Regions from separate parts of the Homo sapiens genome. Here regions 2 and 3 are each linked to region 1. Evidence: fine-mapped QTL for protein levels in blood plasma. A gene starts in region 1. Each other region holds a variant in brackets. All regions are shown on one strand. Distances are from middle to middle.

Region 1 (6,775 bases):
TACAGGCGCCCGCCACTACGCCCGGCTAATTTTTTGTATTTTTAGTAGCGACGGGGTTTCACCGTTTTAGCTGGGATGGTCTCGATCTCCTGACCTCGTGATCCGCCCGCCTCGGCCTCCCAAAGTGCTGGGATTACAGGCGTGAGCCACCGCGCCCGGCCACTAGGATCCTTAAAACTGGAAGAGGGAGACAGAAGAGAGTCAGAGAAAGGGATATGATGACAGAAGCAGGGCCATCTGGCTTTGAAGATAGAACAAGGAGGCCATGAGCCAAGGAATGTGGATGGCTTCTAGAAGCTGAAAGAGCCAAGGAAATTGATTCCCTTCTATTTGGCAGAAAGAAACCCAGCCCAGCCACCACCTTGATTTTAGCCGATGGAGACTCATGTCACACTTCTGAGCTACAGAACTGTAAAATGATAAGTTGGTGTTGTTTTAAGCCACTAAATTTGTAGTAATTTATTATGGCAACAGAAGAAAATGAATGCACGGCCTCATCCTGATATTCCCGTTCTTAAATCCATTTCATTTTATTTCCACCTGGACTTCAGCCCTAACCTTGCCTCATCTCTGCTCTCTGGGTCCATCTTCTGGCCCCTGGATTGTTGAGAACTCCAAGGGGATGTGCTATTCAGTTGAATTTCGGCAGCAGGCAAAGGGAGGAGTCCAAGAAGAGGGCAGGTGAAGGCAAGGGTTAAGCAAGAGTTCTAGCTCTGGAAGCAGACTGGCTTGGTACTGAACCTCCGGGAGCTTTTGTTCTCTGTGGAAGCCTGAGCAAGGTATTTGGCTTGTTTCTTTGGCTCCAATGTAAAGACAGTGATAGGTGCTACCTCAGAAGGTTGCTGTGAGGATGCAATGCGATAATGTGTGTAAGGTGCTAAACGCAGCGCCCAGCAGACAGGAACACAGGAAATGAATGGCAGAGAAACTCTATTAGACATTTATCATGTGACATTATAATTAATGTTCATGTGCCATCAGGAGACCAGATCCAAGGAACGGCAGAAAGATCACAGGAGGGCACTCAAGGGCAACGCCGAGCACCCAGGGCCAGGTGCCCAGCCCTCCTCCTCTTCCCCTTCCTGTCCCCTCCCCTTTCCTGCTGGGGCAGCAGGGGCTTAGGGACAAAGCCCCAGGCGATGAGGAGGTGGCTTGGACAGCTGGTGCTCACACACACACACACCCCCGCCCTGTCTCCCAGAGGCCTGGCAGCCCCACACTCTCCCCCTCCGCCTCCTCCCCACACCCCCTCCACCTCGGGCTGCCCTTTGGTGGCAGATCAGGGCTGGTTTCCCGAGGAGTGGGGCGCACGTGGCGCGAAGCCCCCGCCTTCTCGCTGCCCCTGAGCAGGGGGCCGTGGGGGGAGCTGGCCGGCGGCCGGCATGGGGTTCTCACTTCCCCTCCCCAACGGCCGCGGGTGCAGGTGCCGCGGGCCGAGTCCCGCAGGCGGGGCGGACTCTGTGGACACGCCCTCGTGGCGAGGCCGGGCTGCCCTGAGGGAGGAAGCGCCAGAGCGGCGGCCGGTCCCGCGCGGAGCCCGGCGCCCCTCCAGCCCGAGCCAGGACGCCGCCGGCCCCGGTCCCGGCCCCGGGCACGCAGCGAGCCAGGGATGTGAGCGGCGCCCCGCGGCATGGCAGCCTCAGGTGGGTAGGCAGGCGCCGCGGGTCCCCGGGCTCCCGGCCCCTCTCTCGTACCCCGCATCCCTTGAGGCGCGCTCCCCCGCTTGCTTCTGTTTGCGTCCTCTGTGCGGGGATCTTGCCCTCTTTCTGCTCTTTTCTATGTTCCCTGTCGCAAACTTCCCACTCCAACTTTCCCACGTTTCCCGTCCCAGCCTGTGGCGCGATTCTCTTCAGCCCCTGCCTGGCCCGACCCCCTCCCACTTCTTCAGGGTCTCCTTCGCTCCCTCCACCTCTGGCCCTAGGAGTGTCTGAGCGTCGCTTCCCCTGTCCCTCCGACTCTGAAGCGAGAGGCGAGTTGAGAGAAGCGGAGGGCGGGCGATGTGGATGGTCTACAGGGCCAAACGCGTCTCCTGGGCTCCGTGGACCCACAGGGGGCGCTCAGGCAGTCCTAGGTGGTGCGGAGAGATCAGCCGGGGAGGCCCTTGGGACAGTTCCCCAAGCCCCGTTCCTCCACCCCTCCCAGGCTTTGTGTTTTGGGTCTAGAACTTTGCTAGGGATCTAGGAACACTATTCCTTGAACTTTACTTTTCCTGCGTCCTTTGCAGAACTTTGGGGAATGGGGAGAGTTGGCGGTCACTGGGTAAATGTACTCATCAAAGGGTGCCAAGCGTCTTTTCTGGCTGGTCTTGGGTTGCCTTCTGGTTCATGGGTGTACACACTTGGCAAGTCGCTCACTGACGGAGATCCAGGACAAGCCACATAATGATGATAACGGAGACAATTAATGAGTCCTTACTATTGCACTCCAATGGATACTGTGCACCTAATATGTTCTCCATGGTGGGCAGGAAACACCTAGTCTCTGCTCTCCAGGAGTTTATGGTCCTGTAGAGGAAAGCAATAAGTAAACAAGGAATTACTAGATGAGAGGAGGTAGAGTTACAGTGTTTACAAATGGGTTTACTTGTATTTTCCCAGCCCACTTTATGATGTTTTAGTAGGGATAACCTGTGAAAACAGGTTGCAGGTGCCCCTTGAAAAAGAAAATCTAGGTGGCCAGGAGAAGGCACTGTTCTTACAGGAGGTGAGCAAACACTGGAATGAAGAGCCAGCTCTCCCCAGATCCTCTGAGGGTCTGGTAAGGGTGCTTCGGAAGCAGAGGTAGAAAAGGCCAGGAGTGATTGTTCCATGTACTACAGGCTCATTAAAGGGGATGGGAAGGTAGTTAATCACAGCCTCCTGGCTCTCCAGCTGGGCTCTGGAGGCTAAAAGAAGCTGTGTTGTGAATAAGGAGGCCTAGTAATAGCAGGTAATATACACTTAATAAGGAAAATCTCTGGTATGACATGTGTTATGGGAAAACGATAAAGAAGGGTGAGGGAGACTGGGGTTAGGATTTTCAAATGAGGTGGCCAGGGTGGAGAAAGGCACATTTGAGCCAAGATTTCCAGGGGGAGGAGGCTCTTTGGGGAAGAGTGCTCCAAGCAATGAGTGTATGTGGTGCGTTAAAGGAAAGGGAGTAGGCCAGAGTGGCTGGAGTAGGTGGGCTGTGGGGGAGAGGGAGATGAGGCCAGATAATAAACCAGTGAAGCCGCCTCCTCCTTCCATGGTCAGGAACAGGCCCTGGGCTGCTGAGTCCAGGAAACCGCAAACTGGGAGGGCCTTTGGGTGGAAGAGTCTGAGAAAATGGCCTCTCTTTTCCTCTTTTCCAGCGTCCTGTGTACCTCTCTCCAGTGGACACAGCCGAAGGAGCTAGGAAGGCGAGCTCCAGTTCAGAGGGGGACCCTAGTCCGGTGGGCAAACCTGGGGCTATTTATGGGCTCTGTAGCAGCTTCTGCAGGTGTTTGTAATGGTTAGAGCTGTCAAACTGTCTTGCTGTCTGCGTCTTCTGTGGCGAGACACCACTCCAGGTGCTGTAATTGAGAGTTGGGTCTCTGGAGTCCCTCGGGTTCCCTGAGGTTTGGAAGTACAAGGACCCATGGGGGAAGATCACAGTGGTGAGAGCAATGCCGCTCGCCAAGGTGCTGTGGGCTTTGGAGTCATCCAGCCACCCTTCTGTATGTTCTTCTTTTCTTTTAAAAGCAGCTTTATTGTGATATAATTCACATGCCATACAATTCATCCATTTAAAGCATACAATTCAGTGGTTTTTAGTATCTTTACAGATATGTGTAGCCATCACCACAGTCAATTTTGGGACATTTTCATCACCTCAGAAAGAAACCTTGTATGCTTTAGGTATCAACCTTTTATTCTCCTCTCCTCTCCCAGCCCTAAGATCTACTTTGCCTCTATAGATTTCTCTACTCTGGGCTTGTATATGAATGGAATCACATAGTATGTGGTCTTTGGTGACTGGCTTCCTTTGTACAGCATAATATTTTCAAAGTTCATCCCACTGTAGCTTATATCAGTACTTCGTTCCTTTTTATGGCCTAATTCTTAAATTCCCTTCCACTGAAGGGGAAGCATTAGTCTATATTGTTTTCTGAAAGATGTCTGCTTGTTGAAATCCAGGAGAAGTTAGGCTCCCTGTCTTTGAAAGGACCTTGGGTAGGAAGATAAAATGAAATGGACTTGGCCTATTCCACAAAATTCTCTAGGCCCCTGATGGCATCTTGTGTATTTACACGTGAGAGAGAGGAAAGAGAGGATCCGTGAGTGACTTTCCCAAGTGGCCAAGTCTGTGGCTGGGTGAAGAAAGACTAGTACTCTCTCCTCTGTGTATCAGCTCTCATACCGTCTCTTGCCCCCTCTCTCCAAGGCTCTTCTCTTTAGATCCTTCTACTATTCCTGGACTTACAGGACCATGGAGCTTGAAGGGACTTTTAACCTTTTTGTGACCTTAACTTCCATGTGATCCTTGAGGCCTCTCAATACTCTTGCCAGTACCTAAATTTGAACAACTTCTGGGGTGGGAAGCTCCTGATATGATTGACCACATCTCTCCTTATCCTGGTCACCTTCCCTATCTCTCATCCCTCTTCAAATATGGTGTTCAGATTCAAACATGGGGCTCCAGGATGGATGAATGGGGTGCCAGAGTCACCTATAGGCTGAAGAAATGGTCTGGGCTGGGTGGTTTGAGAAGCTTTCTGGCACTTCCTGTCTGTACTTCTCTCCAGTGAGTTTTTTTTTTTTTTTTTTTGAGACGGAGTCTCACTCTGTCACCCAGGCTGGAGTGCAGTGACACGATCTTGGCTCACTGCAAACTCTGCCTCCCAGGTTGAAGTGATTCTCGTGCCTCAGCCTCCCGAGTAGCTGGGATTACAGGTGCCCACCACCATACTCAGCTAATTTTTGTATTTTTAGTAGAGACAGGGTTTCACCATGCCAGGCTGGTCTTGAACTCCTGGCCTCAAGTGATCTGCCCTCCTTAGCCTCCCAAAGTGCTGGGATTACAGGTGTGAGCCACCACGCTCGGCCCTCCATTGGGCTCTGAATCCTGCAAAGGCACCTCTCTTTCAGCCCCAGCTTTTCACCCCATGGACTCCCTGCTGCTACAGCCTCCCCTTCCTCTGCTGTGATCCATTTCTTTCTCCTTCTGTAGCCAAACCTGTTCTTGACGTTTTACGAGGACAAAGAAAGACCCTTCCTCATTTCTTTCTAGGGCTTGTAGACTCCTTGTTAGCTCATGTGTTTCATTTCTCTTAATAAATGAACAAGCAAAAAAAAAGAGAGATGTGATTGAGGATAAGTGGAAAAGCTACTTATGGTTAAAGGAAGAGGATTATTGCTGAAGAAAGGAGTTTCCCCCATATAAGGCAGAGTTGCTGACAAAGCATTTAGTCCTATATTGTTACCCAGCACATCAGAAAGGGACTGGAACTTTCACTTTGGACTTTTTAAAAACTTCCCCTTCTTTCAGTTTCCCAGCACAGCAATATTCGGGAAGGTGATAGATTTCATTGTCCTCATTTACATCAAGGCAAATTTGCCTAGACTTAGTAATTGGTCTAAGTCACACCACAGGTTAGTGACCAAATAGGTTGTAATGTTAACTAGTCTGAGGCAGTAATTAATTTCTCCTCAAATACTTTCACTCAAAGGGAATTGAATTTAACACTAGAACCCCAGGAGTGAGACATTGTGCATTTATTTATTTATTTATTTATTTATTTAATGAGACAGGGTCTCACTCTGTCATCCAGGCTGGAGGGCAGTGGTACGACCTGGGCTCACTGCAACCTCTGCCTCCCAGGTTCAAACAATTCTCATGGCTCAGCCTCCTGAGTAGCTGGGACTACAGGCGCATGCCACCACGCCTGGCTAATTTTTGTATTTTTTTGTAGAGTTGGAGTTTCACTATGTTGGCCAGGCTGGCCTCGAACTCCTGGCGTCAAGTGATCCGCCTGCATTGGCCTCCCAAAGTGCTGGTATTACAGATGTGAGCCACTGTTCCTGGCCAGGAATGAGACATTTTGAATAGCTGTTCTGTTTGTTTATTTGTTTGTTTTTTAAATATAGGAGATTTAAGTGCTCTTTATTTCAATTGTACTTTTTTTTTTTTTTCTTTGAAATGGAGTCTCGCTCTGTTGCCCAGGCTGGAGTGCAGTGGCATGATCTCAGCTCACTGCAAGCTCCGCCTCCCGGGTTCATGCCATTCTCCTGCCTCAGCCTCCTGAGTAGCTGGGACTACAGGTGCCCGCCACAATTCCCGGCTAATTTTTTGTATTTTTAGTAGAGACGGGTTTTCACCATGTTAGCCAGGATGGTCTCGATCTCCTGACCTCGTGATCCACCCGCCTTGGCCTCCCAGAGTGCTAGGATTACAGGCATGAGCCACCGCGCCCAGCCTCAATGATACTTTTAAATAAAATTTTATTTTAGAACAATTTTAGATTTCCAGAAATACTACAAAGATAGTACAGAGAGTTCTCATATAGACCACATCCAGTTTCACCTATTATTGACATCTTACATTAGTGTGGTTTTTGTGACAATTAGTTAACTGATACTGATAAATTATTAATAACTAAAAGTTCAGGCTTTCCTCAGATTTCCTTAGTTTTTATGTAATGTCCTTCTTCTGTTCCAGGAGCCCATCTCAGGTACTACGTTATATTTGGTAGTCATGTCTCCCTAGGCCCTTCAAGGCTGTGATTTTCTCTGATTTTCCTTGTTTTTGATGGCTTTGACAGTCTTGAGGAGTACTG
Region 2 (8,185 bases), 73 kb after region 1:
AGTGAACTGACGTCCTGGTGGGGCTTGTGTGCATTAAGACCAACATTCAAAATCTCTCCTAAATAGGAACCCTGCTGAATACTATCTTACTTATCCTCCCAGGTCCTTTTGAGATAGTCTGGAAGTATTTTCTGGTTGAGAACTAAAGGCAGCGGAAAGTCTAAGGAACATACCCAGGATTACTTGGTGTACTTATCATGAAATTAGGAATAAGGGCTAAGAGGATGAACTGCTTTCTTTTAATCAGCACGAAACAATAGCTTTAAGAAATACATGCTCTGAACTTTGCAGAGAAGTTCAAAACATGATTCCTATTGTACTGTGTGGCTGCTAGTTAAGCCTTTAAACAAACCCGGCACATTTTGAACTGGTACTTTTTCTCAGGATTCTCCAGTCCTGTTAGAGAAGATGGTAGGGTATTCATTATTAGATTTGCTAATTAATTAAAATGTTATGGCCGGGTATGGTGGCTCATGCCTGTAATCCCAGCACTTTGGGAGGCCGAGGCAGGTGGATCACTTGAGGTCAGGAGTATGAGACCAGCCTGGATAACATGGTGAAGCCCCATCTCTACTCAAAATACAAAAATTAGCTGGGCGTGATGCACAGCTGTAATCCTAGCTATTTGAGAGGCTGAGGCGAGAGAATCACTTGAAACTGGGAGGCAGAGGTTGCAGTGAGCCAAGATCGCGCCACTGCACTCCAGCCTGGGTGACAGAGTGAGACTCCATCTCAACAAAAAAAATTATGTCCTCTGCATCTGAGGACATGATCTTCAGTGGTGTCCTGAAGGAAGCTGTTAGATGTTAGGTCAGTCAATCAATAAGTAATGGCTGAGTGCTTTCTGTTGCCATGCTAGTCTTGGCAGCTTCATCTCCATGAACAAGGGCACCCTGTGCCTTTATTTTTATCTGCCTATTAAGTTTTCCTTGATAATTTTCAGATCAGAGGGATGAAGAGCTGCCCACCCTGTTGCATTTTGCTGCGAAGTATGGACTGAAGAACCTCACTGCCTTGTTGCTCACCTGCCCAGGAGCCCTGCAGGCGTACAGCGTGGCCAACAAGCATGGCCACTACCCCAACACCATCGCTGAGAAACACGGCTTCAGGGACCTGCGGCAGTTCATCGACGAGTATGTGGTAAGGTCAAGGCAGGAGGGGCCCAGGATTGGAAATGCACTCTGTGGTAGTATGGCTGCCCTTTCACCCAAAATACGAACAGATTTTATCTCTAGCATGTCCTCATGTACCTCTTCTGGCCATGGGCAGTATGTGTGGGCTTAAGAAATGAGGTCTGGAGTCACATGGACCTGGGTCCAAATTCCTGTACCAACACTTGTTAGCCTTGTGACGTTGGGTAAGTCACGTATCCTCTCTCAGTTTCCTAATATGCAGAAGGAAGATAATCATAGTTTGAGTCATAGAGTTCTTTTGAAGGTAAAAGGAAATCATTTCTATTAAGCACTGAGGTTCACCCTCACAGAATTTACAGAAACCTTTATAGAGTGAATCTGCTGAAGGTAGAGGCTGATCATCTCCCCCCACCTCCTCACCTGCCTCCAGGGCACCATGGTGGGATGCTCCTAGCTGCCTCACCCGCCTTCAGGCCCCGGTGAACTGTATTAGGCTTGGTTTCTTCTTCAGCAGAAACCTCAATAAAGCTGTGCACCTGGAAAGGCATCAGGGCAGCAACTCTAAGGCCCACCTCCTGCTGACAGCCTCGCTCTCTCTTTCTAACCCCCTGCCTGGGTCCCATGTTAAGACAGGCAGGTATGCCCAGTTTATCTGATCATCTGGTTTGGGGCCCTCAGCTCCTCCTCAAACATTGACTTCTGGGTCCTTCTTTGAGGCTGATCGCACCCCACGTCTACATCTTATTCCATGCCCCAATATTGCCTCTGATGCCTAGGAAGCAGCTGCTCTTCCTGATCCCAGTCCCTCGTGGTTTTCCTCCTTCTTCACAGACTCCCAGAGGGTACCTGAGAATAGCTCAGCCTCTCGCATGGGGCTGTGACCTCACAGGGAGCAATAAACACAGCCCGGTCTTGCTCTCGACCTCCAGACAGGACAGAGCCTGATATCTCCCCAGAAACTTAACTCTCTGCTCTGTGTTGGAAAATCTACAAGACAGTGATTCACGGAGGCACAGAGGGGACTTCCCAGTGTTTACAGGTGTATAAGTGTTTTGAATAAAATGGTGTGAGTCCTTTTTTTTGGGCGTCACTGACACAAATAAGTCTAAAAGGTGCTCTCAGTCTGGGTGTATTTACTCAGTTTTTTCTTAAAGTCACAAATGTACCAAATGTAGCATTTCATTTCCATGCCAATAGTTTTTATTAATAACCTACTGTGTTCATAGTAGTAACTAGTATTTATTGAATGTATTTGATTTGAAAATGTATTATCTCATTTAATCCCCACCACAATCCTTTGAAGTTGACAGTATTGCAAGCCTTACTTTACAAAAGAGGAAAACGGCTTAGAAAGGCAAAGTCACTGTGCTTAGGGCCACAGACTATTCAGGGCAGAGACAGGATTTGCACCTAGTTTGATACTGAAGCCCGGGCTTGTTATCCTGTTGTATTTAACTGGGATGTTTAAAGATGCACTTTCATTTTGTGCCGAAGTCAATCTAGGTCATACCATCTTTGCTTTCTCCCTGTGGTCACCTTCAACCGATGCAGCTTCAGCATTGTGACCAAAAGACTGTCCCTTTGTGTTGCTTATGGCCTCTTAGAACTGTCCCATTTCCTTTTTTCACCACATCAAAACCAAAGGTGAGATCTGGAATCTCCAACATTTCACAGCTGTCATCTGTTTTATTGGGTCTCGTGAGGAAACTAACGAAGTGTCAATAAAAGATTAGCTATCTTAGGGTAGTGGTGGTGAAAATGAGGATTTTTGTGGGTTGATGCTGAAATAAGGATTGTGAAACACCAAAGTTTCTTACCAGGAAAAGTTGTGCAGAGGTTTCAGGGAAGTCACCTCTCTGGCTTCACAATCACATGGAGGCAGGATGGCAGTGGGAGGCAGGGGAGAACCTTTCTGATGTCAGGACACTTTATCCAAGATCATCTCTCCTTTTGGGCACATAGGACATAAAATCGAGGCTGGAACCCCTGGAAACTGTCAGGGTTCCTGACAGTTTGGAGGAGACTGCTGAAGGAACAGGGGCTAGTGTGCCAAGCTGCGGAGTGACCTCTGACTACACACAGGGCGAGAACACCTTAGCTGCATTCCTGTTCAGCTCATTTGAATTTCTGCGTGGCTAGTCAGTAAAGGTCACACCTTCTTGTGTCATTTTTTTCCCTTTGGAGGAACCACTAGGGTGTAGAAGAAGTATCAGAAATCAGGATTGCAA[G/A]CCCTTGAGTAAGATACTAGATTTTTGTGAGCTTTGTTTTTCTCATCTGTAAACTAGAGAATATTATACCTTTCTCAAGCAGTAGTGGAATGGATTACAGGAGATAGGGTATAGGCAAATACCTAGCATTGTACCTGACATTTAAAAGGTGCTCACGGGAAAGTATTTTTTTTTTTTTTAGACAGAGTCTTGCTCTGTTGCCCAGGCTGTAGTGCACTGGTGCGATCTTGGCTCACTGCAACCTCCACCTCCTGGATTCAAGCAATTCTCATGCCTCGGCCTCCCGAGTAGCTGGGATTCCAAGCGTGCTCCACCATGCCCGGCTAATTTTTGTATTTTTAGTAGAGATGAGGTTTTGCCATTTTGGCCAGGCTGGTCTCGAACTCCTGACCTCAGGTGATCCACTTGCCTTGGCCTCCTAAAGTCCTGGGATTACAGGTGTGAGCCACCACATCAGGCCATGGGAAAGTAATTTTTAATTTGTATCCTCTGGTCAGTGGACATTTAACGAGTATTTCCTGAGTGCCTAACTCTGTGCTTAGTGTTGTAGGAAGATACGAAGATTAAAACAAAAACGTGAAATAAACTAAAAAAGGTGGGAAGCCTGGCCTCAAGGAGCGTTCAGTCAGGTGGGAAAATACAAATACACACAACCAGTTGTAATCCTGACTCATGGGAGCCTTTACTTTGCTGGCCACAAGTGCCTTCGGGGGCCAAGTTCCACCCGGAAAGTCAGGCTGCCTCAGGGCGCCGTGGGCCTCATCTTCTCTTTCAGGAAACGGTGGACATGCTCAAGAGTCACATTAAAGAGGAACTGATGCACGGGGAGGAGGCTGATGCTGTGTACGAGTCCATGGCCCACCTTTCCACAGACCTGCTTATGAAATGCTCGCTCAACCCCGGCTGTGACGAGGATCTCTATGAGTCCATGGCTGCCTTTGTCCCAGCTGCCACTGAAGACCTCTGTAAGTAGCACAACCCAGTTCTGCTTCCACCTTTCTGCTGAGAAACAGCTTTTTTCATTCCGGATGAAGATGGCGCGGGGCAGTCCCTATGTACCCTCACTTCACCCCAGAGAGATGAAGGTCCTGTTTTACACAAAGCTAGGGCTGGAGTCATGTGCTGTGACAAGCAGAATTCTTCTCCAAACTTCCTCTGTTATGACTGCTGGGAGAGTTTAAGCAAATATCTGGAAGTCAGAATTGATGAACTCATTGCCTCGTGATCTGAGAGGCCAAATCAGTGGCTCTCAGCCCTCAGTCTCCAGGGGTCCTTTTTATAACAAACATTTTCCTACTCTGACATGAGGTTTATGTATTATATAACCTACCTACATATAAAATTCTCAGAAATCAAATATACTGCCCTAATTGAAATAGGAAAGAGAAATTAAAGAAGAGGACATACTCAAACATGCCTGCACCAGAAGTCATGACAAAAGAGTCAGATGCAGACACACTCAGAATCACGGTCAACGGCTTCAAACATTGACTGACACGTTTGCAGTCTTGGTGGCTCAAATGATGGGAATAATGTTGGCATTGGCACCTGGATTTTCCTAGATGGTGAACAACTCTTTATGATTTCCTTTCCATTTTCATAGAAATTGAATTTCTAAAAAATTAAGTGTTTGCAAAAATAAGATGTGTTTATATGTGAAACAGTTTAGGTTCTAGGCTCAGAAAATAATAAGCAGATTTTTTGGGGGGCGAGGGGTAATTTGATTTTATTGCATTAATATATAGTAAGCTTATTTTCAAAATATCATTCTTCAGGATCATGATTTTTCTTATAAACTGTCTAACAAACTTTGCCCACTTTTTATTATCTTGTTTTTTCCAATGCAAAAGTAATGCCTTTTGACAAAAGTGAATGAGCAGTAGAAGTTCCCCTCCAACACCTAAACTCAAAACAAAATAGGAATCTTTAACTGAGTTGAGAGAAGTTCTGTGACTTGTGACTCCCAGCCAATATGGCATTGGTAATAATTAGTAATAAAATGAGGTATATTTGTCTATATTTTTGCTTATATCTGCTGACATTAAATTTAAAAATACAGACATACTTGTACATATACACAGATATGTAGAAATATACACATAGGTATAAATATGTATCATACGTACTTTTTAAAACTTATGTGTATGTCTAGGGAAATATTTGAAAGTCACGAGGGACATGAAACATCTCTTCATTGGGCAGGGCTGTCCCACACATAGCAGGATGTCTAGGGTCCTTCCCCCTTTTCCTAAATGCCATCTCCTTGGTGACCACCCAAAATACCCTCATAGATTTTCCAAACGCCCCCAGGGGGCAGTGCCACCACCCTTGAGAACCGCTGATCTGGGTAACAGTGGATCTGATCTCCACGCACGTACTGGAGTTGAAGCAGGAGACCCACACAGCAGGCCCTCTAAGAGGCTTATTCATGTGTTACCATCATTCGCTACCAAATGCTAAGCATGCGGAGGCACCACCGGAGACTTAGCCCTCCTTCCCTCTGGTTTTCATTAATAGATTCAAGGAAGAGAAGTATCAACCAAGGTATCAGCATTATGGATGGGGGAATTTCTGGAATGGGCTATATTGAGTGTTACAAGCCTTCAGCCTGAAAAGAAGACAGTAGGGCCCTGGGCCCACAGGGAGGCGGGCCTGACTTTCCCATCCATGAACTCATGGAAGAGCAGGCACCAACAGGATGCCTTGGAGAGAAGGCATAGGTTGGTCAGAGGGCCAGAGGCAGTCTCTGATGCCAGCAGGCCTTTGACACTGACCCCAGAACCTGCAAGATGTGGTCCAGAGGTTGTTAGGTGTTTGCCATTCAGATTGGGTGCTCCTTTAGGGGAAAGAGCAATAAAAGCTCCTCTCCGTCACCTAACTGGGAGGCTTAGAAGTGCTGGTGGAAGCTCTTCCAGAATGAGCTGTGCCTTGGCATGGATGTGGGGAGAGAAAGCACCATCGCTACCATCCACACCCTTGATTTCGGACCTGAAGTCCGAAAGCTACCCCACTAAGATGCTTTTCTTACCTGCACTTTACAAATGGGGAAACAGAGGCACAGAGGGGCTGAACATTCCCAAAGTGTCACAGCCAATCAGTGATAGAGCCCAGATTTGAATCCAGATTTCTCTGTCATTAGGACCATATTCTGCAGAAATTGTTATCCAACACCATGCATTTTAGTCGTGGTTCCTTTTGGAAAAACCATCTAGCCTCTATAGCCTTTCTTCCCCTATCTGCAGCTCCAGATATTGGATAACAAAGCAGCCTCTGGCGCCCCCTAGCCTTGCCCATCATCCTATCCATATACCTAATAAGCATGTCTGGAGCATCTAGTACATTTCGGTTACTGATGTCTTCTGGGTGTTGGAGATACAGGCGGGGAAGTGGGTAGGACCCAGTCCTTTCCATTGTGGAATAGGGACTCACTCACAAAAGAACACTTGGAGAACCACCAGTACCCACTTGAATCTGGAGACTGCATCATCCTTTCTGCCCTGTGTCTTTGCTATGAAACTACTGGACAATTAAAGAATGCCCTACTTTATTGGCAGTTTAGTGTTGACAGAGCCTTACACTTGCTGTCCCCCTGGATGTTCTAACACATGCCATGCTCCCACCACAGCACTGGAAACCTGCAGGGAATGCCACAGGTGTCTCTTCCATTATTCCTGGTCTGCTGGGCCCCTCACAGCAGGATCAGTGAGGTTTACCAGGGCTTCCCAAGGCAGCAGTGTGCTCTGGAGCTAGCCTGGTTTGTAGCCAACTGGCAACTTGTGAAGTCACCCGGGCCAGGGGGCTTCTGGATGCCGTGTAGCTGGAAGGAGGCTACCAGCGGGGAGGCAGCCTGTCAAATTTGGCTACTTTTTGCATGGGAAAAGGAAACCCACCACATTTTTCTTTCTTTTCTTTTTCTTTTCTTTTCCTTCCTTTTTTTCTTTCTTTCTACCTTTCTTTCTTTCTTTCTTTCTCTTTTTTTCTTTCTTTCTTTCTGTTTTTTTTTTTTTTTTTTGAGACAACATCTGGCTCTATTGCTCAGGCTGGAGTGCAGTGGCACAATCTCAGCTCCCTGTAACCACTGCCTCCCCAGCTCAAGCCATCCTCCTACCTAAGCCTCCCGAGTTACTGGGACTACAGGTGTGAACCACCATGCCCAGTTAATTTTTTGTATTTTTCATATAGATGGGATTTTGTGATGTTACCCAGGCTGGTCTTGAACTTGTGAGCTCAAGCAATCCGTCTGCTTTGGCCTCCCAAAGTGCCGGGATTACAGGCGTGAGGCACCATGCCCGGCCCACATTTTTCATTTCCCCAGTTATGTGAACTCTGAATTTTCTAACTCTAGACATGGTTTGGTTTGTGTTTCTGTCTCTGTGGCGTCAAGTTTAACCTTGAGAATGATCGCTTACCTCCTGGCTCAGAAGCAGCAGCAACTTGGACCTGGGGAGGAATAATTTATTTTACTAACAGTGGCTCTGTAGGTGACAAGGCAGCTTAATTCATAAAGAAGTAGGATAAAGGACAAACTGCTAAATCTAAAATGCGTATTTGCAGCACCGCCCAGCAGAATAATAACTTGGAACATCTGGCAGCCCTTTAAAAGTCCATGGACTGCCTGTATCCCCGTGATCTCATCTGACCATCCCAGGGTTTAGTGAATAGGATGATCTCCATTTCACAGGAAAGAAAACTAAGGCTCCAAGATTTAGTAACTTACTTAAGTCCCATCAAGGGAGGACTGGATCAGGAATCTGTGTCTTCGAATTCCCAGGAGGCAAATCTGTCTGCTGTCCCACTGGAATGTAGGGCTCTCCTGGCCTGCCC
Region 3 (8,185 bases), 9.1 kb after region 1:
TTCTACTAAGTCAATCAGTGCCCCAAAACCCAAGCTGCCTCTCAGTCTCAAGCAATCCTCCTACCTCAGTCTCCTGAGTAGCTGGGACTATAGGAGCACACCACCACGCCTGGCTAATTTTTGCTTTTTTTTTTTTTTTTTTTTTTTTAAGACGGAGTCTCGGTCTGTCTCCCAGGCTGGAGTGCAGTGGCGCAATCTCGGCTCACTGCAAGCTCCGCCTCCCAGGTCCATGCCATTCTCCTGCCTCAGCCTCCTGAGTAGCTGGGACTACAGGTGCCTGCCACAACACCCGGCTAATTTTTTTTTTTTTGTATTTTTAATAGAGACGGGGTTTCACCGTGTTAGCCAGGATGGTTTTGATCTCCTGACCTCGTGATCTGCCTGCCTCGGCCTACCAAAGTGCTGGGATTACAGGTGTGACCCACCGCGCCTGGCCTAATTTTTGCATTGTTTGTAGAGACGGGGTTTCACCATGTTGCCCAAGCTGGTCTGAAACTCCTGAGCTCAAGCAATCCGCCCGCCCTGGCCTCCCAAAGTGATGGGATTAGTAATGAGCCACTGGGCCTGGCCCCAAGCTGCCCTCTTAAGGGTTCTTCTTATGCTTAGGAAATTTTCTTCTTCCCTCTTCTTCACTTTTTTGCCATCACTTGCCAACCCTATTGAAAACACTACTTATGGTTTCTTCATCACTAGTATATGGGACCACAACCATCCCTTCCTGAGATTTTATTCTCCTTCTGCTTATTGCACAAATTGTTGACATGATACGCATATGTATGCAGAGGAAGGTGGTGGCTACCCTTTTTCACTTTTGCATTTTTACAAAATGCTCCAGGCTCCTTGCACAGCATCACTAACATTGCATCCTTAATGTTATAATGAAATGTAAAGTCTTGCACCTGTCCTACCTGATGGCTCGTGCCCATGCACGCACATCTGCAATAACACTTGACACTTAGAAGAACGTTTGCCTCTTAAGATAAACCAGCCACATAGGAAGGAAGGACAGAAAGAAGGTAAATATATTCTGATAATTTAACTCTGCTTCTCAATGTCAGTTGCATAGTTATGTAGCTTTGCCAATGTTATACCTTCTATAGTTTTGAAATGATTTTTCCATTGAGGTATAAAGAAATATTCTACACAGAAAAAAAAAATCCAAGCAGCAAAGATTTTTATTTATTTATTTATTTTTATGGCAGGCTGCAGCACTGGTGCATTAACTTTTTGTCCTTAATCTGTGTAAGCTTTGGAATCAGGGTAGGCATTCCTGAAAAGGACCATTATGTTCACAATTGAGGGAACAGACCGTGATCAGAATTGAGTTCTCTGTAGAACCACAAATGTCCAGGGCATCGTCAGAATTGCGGACTGGTTTTCGCCAGTTCCATACTGTTTGTCTAAGATTGCCTTTTTAAAAGATTTGTACACCTTCCCTTCAAAAATACTCTCAGGCGGATCAACTTGCTCCTGCTAAGAAGTCTACTGTGGGCTTTATATTAGCACTGGATTAGGGCTCCAGAAAACCAGGGGGACTCAAAACAGAATGAAACTGCAAACATTCGTTTTATTTGCTATTTTTAAAAATTTGGTAATATGGCCGGGTGCGGTGGCTCACGCCTGTAATTCCAGCACTTTGGGAGGCTGAGGTGGGTGGATCACGAGGTCAGGAGATCGAGACCATCCTGGCTAACACGGTGAAACCCCGTCTCTACTAAAAATAAAAAAAAAAAATTAGCCGGGCGTGATGGCGGGCGCCTGTAGTCCCAGCTACTTGGGAGGCTGAGACAGGAGAATGGCGTGAACCCGGGAGGCGGAGCTTGCAGTGAACCGAGATCGTGCCACTGCGCTCCAGCCTGGGCGACAGAGCGAGACTCCGTCTAAAAAAAAAAAAAAAAAAAAAAAAAAAAAATTTGGTAATCTCATCCTGGGGGAAATCAGAACTATGTTGGGCTTGCATTGTACATGTTGCTTTTTGGTTTGAATATAGTGGTGGATTGGATGGGGGCAGGCAAGAGGATTCATCCTATGATCTTTTCAGAGCCTCTAGGTCTTGCCTAAGTCCTGCCTCTGTCCTTTTCAACAGGAAGCATCAATGAAATGCGGCCCAGGCCTAGCGTTTAATTGTTTTAGTCTACAACTTAGGTGGTTCCCAACCTTCATAAAATGTGACCAGCTTCCTTCTCTGAGTTCCCTGTTGTGTTGTATGGACACTTTATACTCACCTCTTCCAAACCACACACAGAACAGTTTGTTGAATTCATGGAGAGATGATGACCCAAAACAGTGGTAACAGTTACATTAAGAGCCAAGCTTTTTTGAACTTTGGTAGTTGGAAGCTATGACTTACTACTCGTAAGATTCTTGACATAGTTCCTGATGGGTGGTGCAGGTGAGTTGGGAAGGAGGCTGGACTGGGAACCAGGGAATAACCTGAGTGTCAGTTCTGGCTCTGCCAATAATCTAGAGTATGAAGTTGAGCAAGTCCCTTAACCTTCCTAGATGAAATGTTTCTTTCATCTGTAAATGAGGAGTTTGGGCCAAGTGATCCCTAAAAGCCCTTTTTGACTCTCTTTTTGGCATTTGTGCTTTGTTAGAGGAAGAAAGCCTATGTTATAGGCCAGGTGTGGTGAGGGACACCTTGCAGATTGTATTGTGGAGGTAACAGCATTAATTCACAACTACCATGCACTTTAATATGATACATTATTTATATTCATGTGAGGATGATGACACCAGCTACCAATTCCTGAGGGTTTTCTATATGACAAGCACTGTGCTTAGCAGTTTACATGAAATATCTAATTTAACTCAAATCCTTACTTGGCCACTGTGAATCTTGTGCAAATTACTTAACCTGTCACACCTCAGGTTTCTCATTTTTTTAAAGAATGGGCTAATAATAGTACCTACCTTCTAAAGTTGCTGTGAAGATGTAATGAGTTTAGTAGGCAATGTGCTTGGAAGAGTGCCTGGAACATAGTAACCTCTATATAAGTGTTTGCTGTTGCGATTATTATTATTTATTATTATTGTTATTATTGTTATGATCTCATACTGCTTCAGGTGTGGGGGGAAGGTGCATGCCAGGCAGAAGCAATAGCTCGTGCAAGGATCTAAAACAGTATGGGGTTGGGCCTGGTGGCTCACGCCTGTAATCCCAGCACTTTGGGAGGCAGGGATGGGTGGATCACTTGAGGTCAGAAGTTCAAGACTAGCCTGGCCAACATAGTGAAACCCCATCTCTACTAAAACTACAAAAATTAGCTTGGCGTGATGGCAGGCATCTGTAATCCCAGTTACTTGGGAGGCTGAGGCAGGAGAATCGCTTGAACCCGGGAGGCAGAGGTTGCAGTGAGCTGAGATTGGGCCACTGACTCCAGCCTGGGTGATAGAGCGAGACTCAGTCTCTAAATAAATAAATAAATAAATAAATAATAAAACAGCGTGGTATGTTTGGGCAAAGATAAGGAGTCTGGTATGATTGGAACACAGACTGTAAATGGGGAAAGAAATGCGTGAGTGAGGTGTGCTGGTGTGCTGGAGGCACACCACGAAAGATTGTGGGTGCCAGACCCAGTGTCTGGATGCTCTACCTTTGCAGGCTGTGGGGAGCCACCTAGAAGGGGAGGTGTGCTAACATGCTTCTGTGCCTCATTCTTGTCCAGGGGTGCCCAGAGGATGCGACATCCTCATCGTCTACAGCCCGGATGCCGAGGAATGGTGCCAGTACCTGCAGACCCTGTTCCTGTCCAGTCGGCAGGTCCGCAGCCAGAAGATACTGACTCACAGGCTGGGCCCCGAGGCCTCCTTCTCGGCAGAGGACCTAAGCCTTTTCCTCAGCACCCGCTGTGTCGTGGTGCTGCTGTCCGCGGAGCTGGTGCAGCACTTCCACAAGCCCGCCTTGCTGCCCCTGCTGCAGAGAGCTTTCCATCCTCCGCACCGCGTGGTCAGGCTGCTCTGCGGCGTGCGGGACAGCGAGGAGTTCCTAGACTTCTTTCCAGATTGGGCCCATTGGCAGGAGCTCACCTGTGACGATGAGCCAGAGACCTACGTGGCAGCTGTGAAAAAAGCCATTTCCGAAGGTAAGGATTTCTTCTAAAGATAAGCAAGCCCTAGAAAAGTTGCTAATCCAGGTCCTAGGTGTAAGTTTATATTCCAAAATGAGCGGGGATCTCACTATGTTAAGAGACCTGGTCATATTTATGGGTTTAGAGCAGCCTATTTCTGGGGTGGGATAGGGGCAGGACAGCTCTCCTGGACTATCAGGAGAGGAAGAGGACACTGTCCCTTT[T/C]CTTCTGTACTAGGGCAAAGGCCTTCTTTCTAGAATTTTCTGTGCCTTGGAAGACACAGGACAGAGTTCCAGCCTAGAAAGTAGTTGGGGCTGGGAGGCAGAGACTTAGTTTGCTGTTGGTGTGAGGAACAAGACTGCCCACTCTCCTGCTTGCATGTTACTTCCATTTTATCATCACGCGAACTTCACATTTTTGTTAAAAAAGGGTTTTTTTTTTTTTTTTTTTGAGTCGGAGTCTCCCTCTGTCACCCAGGCTGGATCGCAATGGTGCGATCTCAGTGGACTGCAACCTCTGCCTCCAGGTTCAAACGATTCTCCTGCCTTAGCCTCCCGAGTAGCTGGGATTACAGGTGTGTGCCACCATGCTTGGCTAATTTTTTTCTATTTATAGTAGAAACAGGGTTTTATCATGTTGGTCAGGCTGATCTTGAACTCCTGATATCAAATGATCCACCCGCCTCAGCCTCCCAAAGTGCTGGGCCTACAGGCATGAGCCTCCGTGCCCCGCCAAGGCATTGTTTTTTTCGATAACATGTTTATAGAGAAATAGCCCTCTTCTCTATTTCCCACCAGCCTAGCTTCTATATTTTGCCATTTCTCCTTTTAGAGTAGGAAAATTCCGATCCTTTCTGCCGGGGTTAGTGACTTCAGTGGCCCCAGGAAGTGTGACACACACTCTGATTAACAGTAACAGAAGACATGCTCTGGGATGGACACATATCACAGCTTTTCTTCCTCTTTTTGCTTTCTTTTTGCTTTTTTTTTTTTTTTTTTTTTTTTTTTGAGACAGATCCTCGCTCTGACGTCCAGGTTGGAGTGCAGTGGTGTGATCTCAGCTCACTGCAACCTCCACCTCCTGGATTCAAGTGATTCTCCTGCCTCAGCCTCCCGAGTAGCTGGGATTGCAGGTGCCCACCACCACACCTGGCTAATTTTTGTATTTTTAGTAGAGACGGGATTTTACCATGTTGGTCAGGCTGGTCTCAAACTCCTGACCTCAGGTGATCCACCTGCCTCGGCCTCCCAAAGTGCTGGGATTACAGGCGTGAGCCACCACGCCTAGCCTCTTTTTGTTTTCTATTTTTGCCTCACTGTGGGCTATGAATGGGCTATGTGTTTATATTCTGTTCTCTTGCCACATGAGATCTTATATACCTGACGCCAGCAAAGAAGCCTGGAAAATTATGGTCCTGATTTAACTGTGCCTCAGTTATCCCTGGTGTGACTTGGGCATTAATTTGTCTCACCCACCCCTATGCCATCTGATAAATGAAATCAAGAATTTACTAATTTTCAGTGGCCTTAAAAAGGTAATGTAACTTCCTAGGTGCTTTTATCCCAGGAATTGGCTACTCTAAACCAATAAACATGACCACGTCTTTTAACAAAGTAAGATTCCTTCTCATTTTGTAACATAAATCACTAGTGTGAATGTAAAACATGTCTCACCTGAAATGCCGGGACCTGGATTAGTACTTTTTCTAGAGTTTGCTTATCTTTACGTTAGAAAGACAATGATAGAAAAAGCATATAATTCATTTTTGCATGATTGCCTTTCATTACTTTGAAGGAATTGTGATCTGCCCAAACTTACAAAAAACTGAGACACAACTGGTTGTTTCTGTGGATGATCTTATGTCATTGCATCGGTCCATTAGGATCTCGCAGGCCAGCCCCTGGAACCCACCATGGATGTATTGCCACTGACTGGGCATCTCATACTGTACGCTGTAACAGATTGTTCTTTAAAATATTACAGTAGTGTGGCTGGGCGCAGTGGTGCACACCTGTAATCCCAGCACTTTGGGAGGCCGAGGCGGGCGGATCATGAGGTCAGGAGTTAGAGACCAGCCTGGCCAATATGGTGAAACTCCATCTCTACTAAAAAAATACAAAAATTAGCTAGTCGTGATGGTGCGTGCCTGTAATCCCAGCTACTCGGGAGGCTGAGGCAGAAGAATCACTTGAGCCCGGGAGGCGGAGGTTGCAGTGAGCCGAAATTGTGCCACTGCACTCCAGCCTGGGCGACAGAGCAAGACTCCGTCTCAAAACAAACAAACAAACAAAAAACAGTAGTGTTATTTTTTGAAGTAGATAGAAAAAAGGATTATTTTAATATTGTTTGGATGTGTCCAGTGATTCAATACCTGGATAAATTGATCTCTTCTACTATTTCACTTTTTACCAAAGACTGTAGTTCAGTATGCTATGAGCCTTTAGCTTCAAGTGTCTCGGAAAGAATGAACTCATTTACAGGGTGCTCCTGTTCTAAGAGCAGGAACTTCTCATCAGAAAGAGATTACTTTAATGGGAGATTAAAATAAGCTGCTTAGTGGGATATCTTTGCAGTTCAGAATCAATGGATATAGGGACAAATGGAATTGTAAGAAAGAGAAGAGGAGGAAGGAAGCCTTATAGCCTCAATATAACTTTCTTATCTGGTATTAGGTTTGTGAATTTGGGGATTCAAGATCTCTGTCGGTGCTAGGATGACTTGGGTTTGCTTTTTGGGTATTCCATAGCCATGGCCCTTGGTTGGCCTTGACTCTGAGGCCATATTCCTGATTTTTTTTGCTGGACAAGCTTTCTTAACAAACCTGATACTCAGAGTCTGGCAGTGTAGAAAAAAGAGCATTGACCAGGGTTAGGGACACTGCATTACCCGGCTCTGCTGCTAACCAGATGCCTAGTACTGAGCAAGTCATTTTGCCTCTTTGAGTTCCAGTTTCCTTTTCTGTAAGTGGCAGATTTAGACTTGATCTAAGACACTTCCCAAGGCTAAAAATCTGTGATTCACCTAGGCCAGAAAATCTTAAATATTTTTGAAGTATGACCTTCTTGCCACATTTCATACCTGCTTTGACTCCCAGGAAGCTTAGGGCTAGAACAGTATCTAAAGACAGTACTCTCCCTACACTACATTTCTGGGATAATTGTGTCCTTAGGTACATTCCCTATAACTTGTGATAACCCATCTTTTTAAAAAATACTCCTCTTGCATACATGAGGTTTTCCTAAGGTACCTCAAAATAAAAGCAAAAGCTAATATTTTCATATACGTTACTACACCAGCTGCCCAGTCCCATGAGAAATAAGTACATGAAACTTGTTTCTTTGACTTTCTCTGTTAAAAAAAAGAATCCCAATAAGAAATTGGCTGGGCATGGCCGGGAGCGGTGGCTCACGCCTGTAATCCCAGCCCTTTGGGAGGCCGAGGCGGGCGGATCACGAGGTCAGGAGTTTGAGACCATCCTGGCTAACACGGTGAAACCCTGTCTCTACTAAAAATACAAAAAATTAGTCGGGCGAGGTGGCGGGCGCCTGTAGTCCCAGCTACTCGGGAGGCTGAGGCAGGAGAATGGCGTGAACCTGGGAGGCGGAGCTTGCAGTGAGCCGAGATGGCACCACTGCACTCCAGCCTGAGTGACAGATCAAGACTCCATCTCAAAAAAAAAAAAAAAAAAAAAAAAAAACAACTGGCTGGGCATAGTGGCTTATGCCTGTAATCCCAGCACTTTGGGAGGCTGGAGCAGAAGGATTTCTGCTTTGAAGTTTGAGACCTGTCTGGACAACATGGCAAAACCCTGTCTCTACAAAAAATACAAAAATTAGCTGGGCATGGTGGTGTGTACCTGTTGTCCTAGCTACTTGGGAGGCTGAGGTGGGAGGATCACCTGAGCCTTGGAGGTTGAGGCTGCAGTGAGCTGTGACTGAGCCACTGCATTCCAGCCTGGGGATCAACAGAGTGACACCCTGTCTCAAAAAAAAAAAAAAAAAAGAAATGCAATGGAAAATTGATAATGGGGATGAATTAATAGTAGAGACAATAATTGTGGAGTTATTGATTGTAGGGCTATTGAAACTACAGGGAGACAAATTTTAGGAAAAACT

Direction of the effects. Alleles are on the strand shown, and positions count from the first base shown. The strength of an association depends on the size of the effect and on how common the allele is.
In carriers of allele A in region 2, the plasma level of the protein whose gene starts at base 1,511 in region 1 tends to be lower than with G alone (weak association).
For the plasma level of the protein whose gene starts at base 1,511 in region 1, C is the low allele of the variant in region 3 and T is the other (moderate association).

Evidence for each region. A credible set is the group of variants that fine-mapping cannot tell apart. PIP is the chance, under the fine-mapping model, that this variant and not a neighbour inherited with it causes the effect. The UK Biobank Pharma Proteomics Project read protein levels with antibody pairs (Olink). The fine-mapping took linkage between variants from a reference panel, not from the people measured, so its PIPs are less certain.
Region 2: its variant is the best candidate, but not a certain one, in a credible set for the plasma level of the PIK3AP1 protein (UK Biobank, PIP 0.69).
Region 3: its variant is the best candidate, but not a certain one, in a credible set for the plasma level of the PIK3AP1 protein (UK Biobank, PIP 0.54).

Annotation. Positions count from the first base shown.
Region 1 is chr10:96,715,250-96,722,024 of GRCh38, reverse strand. PIK3AP1 (phosphoinositide-3-kinase adaptor protein 1) reads left to right here and starts at 1,511. Exons shown (of 17, transcript NM_152309.3): 1 at 1,511-1,643. The coding sequence starts at 1,631. RefSeq lists enhancers at 920-1,029, 1,880-1,989 and silencers at 1,150-1,449, 1,500-1,749.
Region 2 is chr10:96,641,614-96,649,798 of GRCh38, reverse strand. PIK3AP1 (phosphoinositide-3-kinase adaptor protein 1) reads left to right here. Exons shown (of 17, transcript NM_152309.3): 7 at 944-1,140; 8 at 4,137-4,326. Among named protein-coding and RNA genes, the nearest start is that of TM9SF3, 59 kb to the right of the region's middle. RefSeq lists an enhancer at 4,258-4,327. The variant G/A (reference allele first, on the strand shown) is at 3,362.
Region 3 is chr10:96,705,467-96,713,651 of GRCh38, reverse strand. PIK3AP1 (phosphoinositide-3-kinase adaptor protein 1) reads left to right here. Exons shown (of 17, transcript NM_152309.3): 2 at 3,669-4,085. Among named protein-coding and RNA genes, the nearest start is that of PIK3AP1, 11 kb to the left of the region's middle. The variant T/C (reference allele first, on the strand shown) is at 4,295.